Linked DNA regions of Homo sapiens: region 2 is reported to be linked to region 1. Evidence: microRNA targets listed by miRTarBase, many of them from high-throughput screens and not tested one by one. Region 1 holds a microRNA gene; the other region holds the end of a gene's coding sequence.

Region 1 (3,000 bases):
CCTCAGAGAAGCATGTGCATACTCTACCCTGTTGCCTGGCCTGGAGAGGTTCTTGTTCGCTTGTGCATGTCCCCAGCTACACTCAGAGCTCTTGACGGGCATCATTGTGTCTTACTGATTTCTGTAGCCCCAATGCCAAGCTTAGAACCTGGCACCATATAAGTGCTCAATAAACATTTGTTGAATTGAATTGAATTGGAGTCTAGAATGAGACTTAATACTGTAATAAACAAGATACTGTAATATAACACATAGGCATGAGAAGCTTTATTATATAAACAATACCATGGTTCAGTGTGTGCTGTGTCACCTGTTTTCACACTTGGGGACTTCCTCCATTTTATGTGAGTTTTTATGGGTTTGTTTTTCATGCTGTATTTTAGTCTTTTTCCTAAAAATCATCAACTGCAGGGTCCAGGCCTTTCACCATCTAGCCCAGCCTTCTCACCACATGTTCAAGCTGTTCAACCTGCTAGACAGGATTCCTTTTAAGGAGAGTATTTCAAAGAAGAATTAAGACCTATAGGTAGAAGCACAAAGGATTCATCCAGTCTGAAAATGTTTGCTAAGCACCTTTGTTATTCTAAGCTAGGTTCTGTGGGTCCAACAGTGAACAAGACCCAATCCCTGCCCCCAGAGAGTTTAAAGTCTGGTGGAGGAGACCGAGGTATCACTGGTTATTACAATACAGTGAGCCCCACATTGGAAAGACCAGCCACGCTCTTGGTCTCCGTCCCCATAACTCTCACACACCGGCCTGGTTCTACTTTTCAAGGCCCCATAGAACAACCCTACTCTGCCTTTCACACGATAGGCCTTCAGGGTAATTCTAAACAGCTTCCTTACCTCCTCTTAGTTTCTTCAAGCCAAAAATCTTCAGTTCCTTAATTAATTCTCATATAACTTAACTGCCTATTCTCTCACCTTTACAGCTGGCTTTTGGACATGCTTTATTGCATGTTGTTTTGCTCCTATTTGTTCCTCCTTGATCTTTCCTCAGGATTTGACAGATTCTGTCCTTGGCATTGTTCCTCTCTGATACCAGTTCTATCACCCCACCTCCCTGGCATCTCTTTCTACCTCATTGACTTGCCATCTCTCCACCTTTACCATGAATATTAACCAAATTTCTGTTTTCAGCCTCTTATTTTCTCCCATTTTCTCTCATTACTCTTCCCAGGATGTCTGACCCATTCACATGGCTTTGCTGCTTACCTCTGTCTGTCTATAGTTCTGGTCCTGCCCTTTTCTCAAGTCCCAAACCTACATTTTAAATTGCTGGCTGGGCATCATGTTTATCCAGAAAGCAAGCTGTTACATTCTCTTCTATGCCAGCCCTTCCTCCTCACTTCCTCCAGGTTGGAATAGTGCCTTTATCTTCGGCACCATCTTGGAGTCATGCTTCACTCCTTGTGCCTGCCCCCCACCCTCCATCCCACGCTCTTTTCCCATCTGTCTGGCATGACCAGCTTAGTCAATCTTCCTGAAATGTCACTGGAAAAATAACTCCCCTGGTCAAAACAACTTTCAGTGGGGTTTTGTCACCTTTTATGTTTGGGTAAAGGCTTCCACAGTAACATTTAGGCCTCATTTCATTATGGCCTGAGATTGTCTTCTCATCCCTTTCACACACAGTAGCTAAACTAACCCTCCTGTCAGCCCAGAATGCCTCCTTCTTCATTTGGGGAGATCTTACCCATCTTTCTCGGCTTCTTTCACGCACTGGGTCTTCTGTGACTTCACAGCTGACTAGCCTTCACCCTCTGAGTCTCCAAAGCTCTTTGTTCTTCTTGTCAGGCTTACCCTATGCTGCTATAGATGGCTGCAACCCGTGTTCAATTCAGTTCGATAAACACTGTTGAGCACCTACAGTAGCTGAGCCTGGTGCTAGTCACTGGGGCAAAGATGACTAAAACACTTTTCCTGCCCTCGAGGAGCTCACAGTCTAGTATGTCTCATCCCCTACTAGACTGAAGCTCCTTGAGGACAGGGATGGTCATACTCACCTCGGTGTTGCCCAAACCTCCAGGCCAGTAGCCTAGCTAGCTAGATACAGGAAGAGTCACCCAGGCACTGAATTCAAGGCTTAGAACATATGAGTGATTCTTAATACTAAGGAATGCTCCACTGAGGTAAATTATCTCCAAAAAGTATCCAATACATATTTTTAGAACTACATATAATTACTTTAAATAGGTACCTGTAGTATAATTTATGGATATCTTCTTATATACTACTAGCACAGGTAGTTGAGCATTCATTCATTCTGCATTGTTCTGTTTTAGAAATGGTGTTTAACTTTGCGTTTTGAACATATACAATTAGGCTACCAAATAGGCCACCATTTTATATTATAAAATGTCACTATATAATATAATTGCTTACTTGGACATTTGCATATAACAGTGTATCACAATAACTAAATAGGTTATTAATTTTTTTCAAAATTTTTATTATTTCCAAGATTTTAACAAAGAAATAATAAGTTTGGATAGCCCTTTGGTCGTTAAAATTATGGTAGTTAAAAATGTTTCCCAAATCCCATTCTTCTTCTTGACCTCGAAAGAATTCTCCTTCCCTACCTTGAAAGAATATTTGCAAGTAGACTCAAATTACTGTGGGATTCCCCTCATCTTTAACTGGAGTGTATGCGTGTGTATTTTATTTTGTTGAGGCGGGGTCTCCTCTGTTGCCCAGGCTAGAGTGCGGTGGCACCATCTCTGCTGCCTGCAACCTCCACCTCCCATGCTCAAGTGATTCTCCCACCTTAGCCTCCTGAGTAGCTGGGACTACAGGCATGCACACCACACCACCACACCCAGCTAATTTTTTGTATTTTTGGTAGAGATGGGGTTTTGCCATGTTGCCCAGGCTGGTCTCAAACTCCTGAGCTCAAGCAATCCACCCACCTTGGCCTTTCAAAGTACTGAGATTACAGGCATGAGCCACCATGCCCAGCCTTGTATATTTGTTTTTGACTATATTAGTTGAGAAGTGATT
Region 2 (3,127 bases), not on the chromosome of region 1:
AGGGTGGACTGTTGGCCTTGCTCTCAAGGGTCTGTCCTTTCTTTGTATAGAAGCTGTCTGTGGGCACCCTGAAGAAGCTGGGGCTAGAACAGTCGAAGGCCCGCTACATCCCCCTTCACCTGCACGCCCGGCAGCTGATCCTGCCTGCCCTGGGGTCCGGGAAGGAGGAACTCAACTTGGTCTGCAAACTTCCTCGCTTCTTTGTGCATTCCCTGCACCGCCTGCGTTTAGAGATGCCAAATGAGGATCAAAATGAGAACAATGAAGCCAAGTGTCTGGGAGCACAGTGAAGACCATGGGAGCACCCTGGCACCTGGGAGCACAGTGAAGACCCTGAGAGCATCCTGGCACCTGGGAGCGCAGGTTGGCCCCTGAACTGTTCTTTGTTTACAGGACTCTGCTAACTTCTCACTTGGAACAGACTGCGTAAGAGCCAGGTGGGATAAGGTAAAGCAACTCAGCTGCTACAGGGCTTTTAATGGAGAACAAAGTCTATTTACTGATAGTTTGGCTGCACTGTGGAAAAGCCTGCTGGAAGTCTCCCTGCCGTGGGCTCTCATTGCCAATATGGAACAGAGCCCAGGGCCAGGCAGACTGGGGCAGTGACTGGAAAAGGAAAACTAAAGGTCAGAATCCGGGATCAGGAACTGTTTTTATCCAGCAGTGAAGCTCTTGAGCTCTTAGGAAGGTTCCCGTGGTTGGAAAGAACATAATGGTTAACAAATATCACAGCATCCAGGGATTGCCCAGCTATAGTGTGGGTGCCCTACTGAACTCTGATTAGGGAACCTGTATAAGGGTATTGAGTGTGAGGTTGAGGTGGGACATTTGCTGAGCAAGGAGAACCGATGTGAATGGCAGGCAGATAACATGCACACATGAAGCTGGCTGGGTGTAAGGCAGTAGCGGGGAGCGGCATGCTGTCTAACAGCTGTTAGCTCCAGCTGGTTGTTGCCATGTGGGAATGGATTTTCTCATTTCTTCAGAGAAGCTGGAAACCTAGATATTTATGTGAAACCTCCCAGTGTATTGCCAACTAAATCAAATTTTTAAAGATGCTTAGGCACCTAAGCAAATAATACTTAGAGGTTGAATTTGGTCTACAGGCTAGCAGTTTGCAGTCTATGTTTAATGAATGGTATAGAAGTTTGGGGAAAGGTGCCATCTTGAAAATTCTGGATCAGTGGTTGGCATTTTCGCTGCGTGTAGTATGTATCCTTTCTAGGCTTGGAGATGGCTTTGGTTGGTCCGTGAATGTAGTTATGAGAGTGCTGCCATTAAAAAATCAAAAATCTCTGTTGTGGAAGCGTATCTTCTGTTCTTAGGTCTCAGGAAGGAGAGGGCTATACTGAACACCATTAGGGATAGATGGAAATGACCTTGGCCTCCCTGCTCAGCTGGTCCATCTAGTTTCCACCTTGTTTCTTGCAAACAAATACACCTCACACTACTTTTTCTTTCTGACAGAGTTGGAGTGACAGCACAGTTAGGGGGGTACACCCCGGGACAGTCTTTATATGTTCCCTCTGTATAGATGATGCCACTTTCTAGCCCTTTCCCTGTCTCCATGGTACCCATTACTGTGCATAATAAATTTAACTTTGAAAGCACAGACGAGATGACTATATTTGTTTATATAAGACCTAAATATTTTTGCTGTTATTTCTGTTTCTAGTAAACCATGCTAGTCAAGAAAAAGGAACAAGAATGTGACACTTAGGAAATAGTGATAATTGACATTAATTCAGGGAAACAGATGAACAGGAATACCCACAAGAATGGAGAAGAGGCTGGGCGCGGTGGCTCACACCTATAATCCCAGCACTCTGAGAGGCCGAAAAGGCCGAGGCGGGCGGATCACCTCAGCCCAGGAATTCGAGACCAGCCTGGGCAACGTGGTGAAACCCTGTTGCTACAAAAAATACAAAAATTAGCTGGGTGTGTTGGCACACGCACACCTGTGGTCCCAGCTACTCAGGAGGCTGAGCTAGGAGGATCACCTGAGCCCAGGAGGTTGAGACTGTAGTGAGCCATGATTGTGCCACTGCACTCCAGCCTCGTGACAGAGTGAGACCCTGTCTCACAAAAAGGAGAACAATCTTAGAGGAACAGATGATGGAAATAAAAGAACTGGAAAATGTAGAAAAGTAGGAGCTAGTCAGGATACATTTTGGAGAAGTAACAGATGATTTATATTCTCATATATAAATATGGTCTCCTCCAAGATGTAAATCTAGTCTTTAATTTGGCAAACTGAATATTTACTAGGCTGAAGGTATCTGGGGATATTCACTCATCTCAGGGAGCTCTCTTTAGCTGGGAAAATTCAGTTAGCTGTGTGGTTTACTGACAAGTAAGTGTGAGGCGGGACTGTTGTTCCCCAGGCGGGCACGTTGGAGCTAGACTGAGAACCAGCTGTGTCGTTCTGTCTGCCCGGCTTTGTCACAAATGCTGCCCTACTGTTCTTCGTGATTCTTTAGCACTTCAGTGCTGGGTTTTGTGTTGGTTGCTGAACTGGGAGCTACCAAGCTAGTGACAGTTGACTTTTTGAGAATTCCTAAGCTTCCCTGGGATATGGGGTCACCACATTGGAGACTGGGGCAGATGTCTGCCCTGCTGCACCTTCCCAGACCCTTCTCAAGCCGAGGTCAGCGGCTCTGTGCCCCGCAAAAGGACTGTCTTCTTTAGTGTCGACTGACTCATGGGGGTGCTTAAGGACCAGGACAACAACCTCATATAACCTAGTTGATCTGCAGCTTTTAAGGGTGCAGGGAATGTGATTATAGCTAGGCAGAGTAAGCTGAAATGCTCTTGTATGTTGATTCGTTAGCCATAAAAGTATGATTTTTTAAAAATGTGTTTGCGTTTTAAATAACTTTTATTTGTAAATATGGAATGGCCTTTTAAAAATTAATAGAACATTTAAGCACACCATAAGAAATATCAAATATTAGGTCATGTCATCTGCTTGTAATTAGTTACCATCTGGGCTTGAGAGGGACCTGGTTTAAGAAGCGTGGTAGACTGGGCATGGTGGCTCATGCCTGTAATCCCAGCACTTTGGGAGGCCAAGGCGGGAGGATCGCTTGAGCCCAGGAGTTCTGAGATCAGCCTAGGCAACTTGCCG

Evidence for each region. Region 1 holds the annotated microRNA hsa-miR-151a-3p (CUAGACUGAAGCUCCUUGAGG, at 1,966-1,986, shown strand). A microRNA usually pairs through its seed, bases 2 to 8, with sites in the 3' UTR of a target mRNA and lowers its output. Matches are read on the target gene's strand: a 7mer-m8 pairs with bases 2 to 8, a 7mer-A1 pairs with bases 2 to 7 and ends in A, and an 8mer does both.
Region 2: miRTarBase lists RPUSD4 as a target of hsa-miR-151a-3p. Seed matches in the 3' UTR shown: 7mer-m8 at 1,119-1,125.

What each region holds. Positions count from the first base shown.
Region 1 is chr8:140,731,573-140,734,572 of GRCh38, reverse strand. It overlaps MIR151A (microRNA 151a), which reads left to right and starts at 1,920; the gene lies at 1,920-2,009. The region is part of intron 25 of PTK2 (protein tyrosine kinase 2); the gene reads left to right.
Region 2 is chr11:126,200,581-126,203,707 of GRCh38, reverse strand. RPUSD4 (RNA pseudouridine synthase D4) reads left to right here. Exons shown (of 7, transcript NM_032795.3): 7 at 51-1,612. The coding sequence ends at 290. Among named protein-coding and RNA genes, the nearest start is that of RPUSD4, 9.5 kb to the left of the region's middle.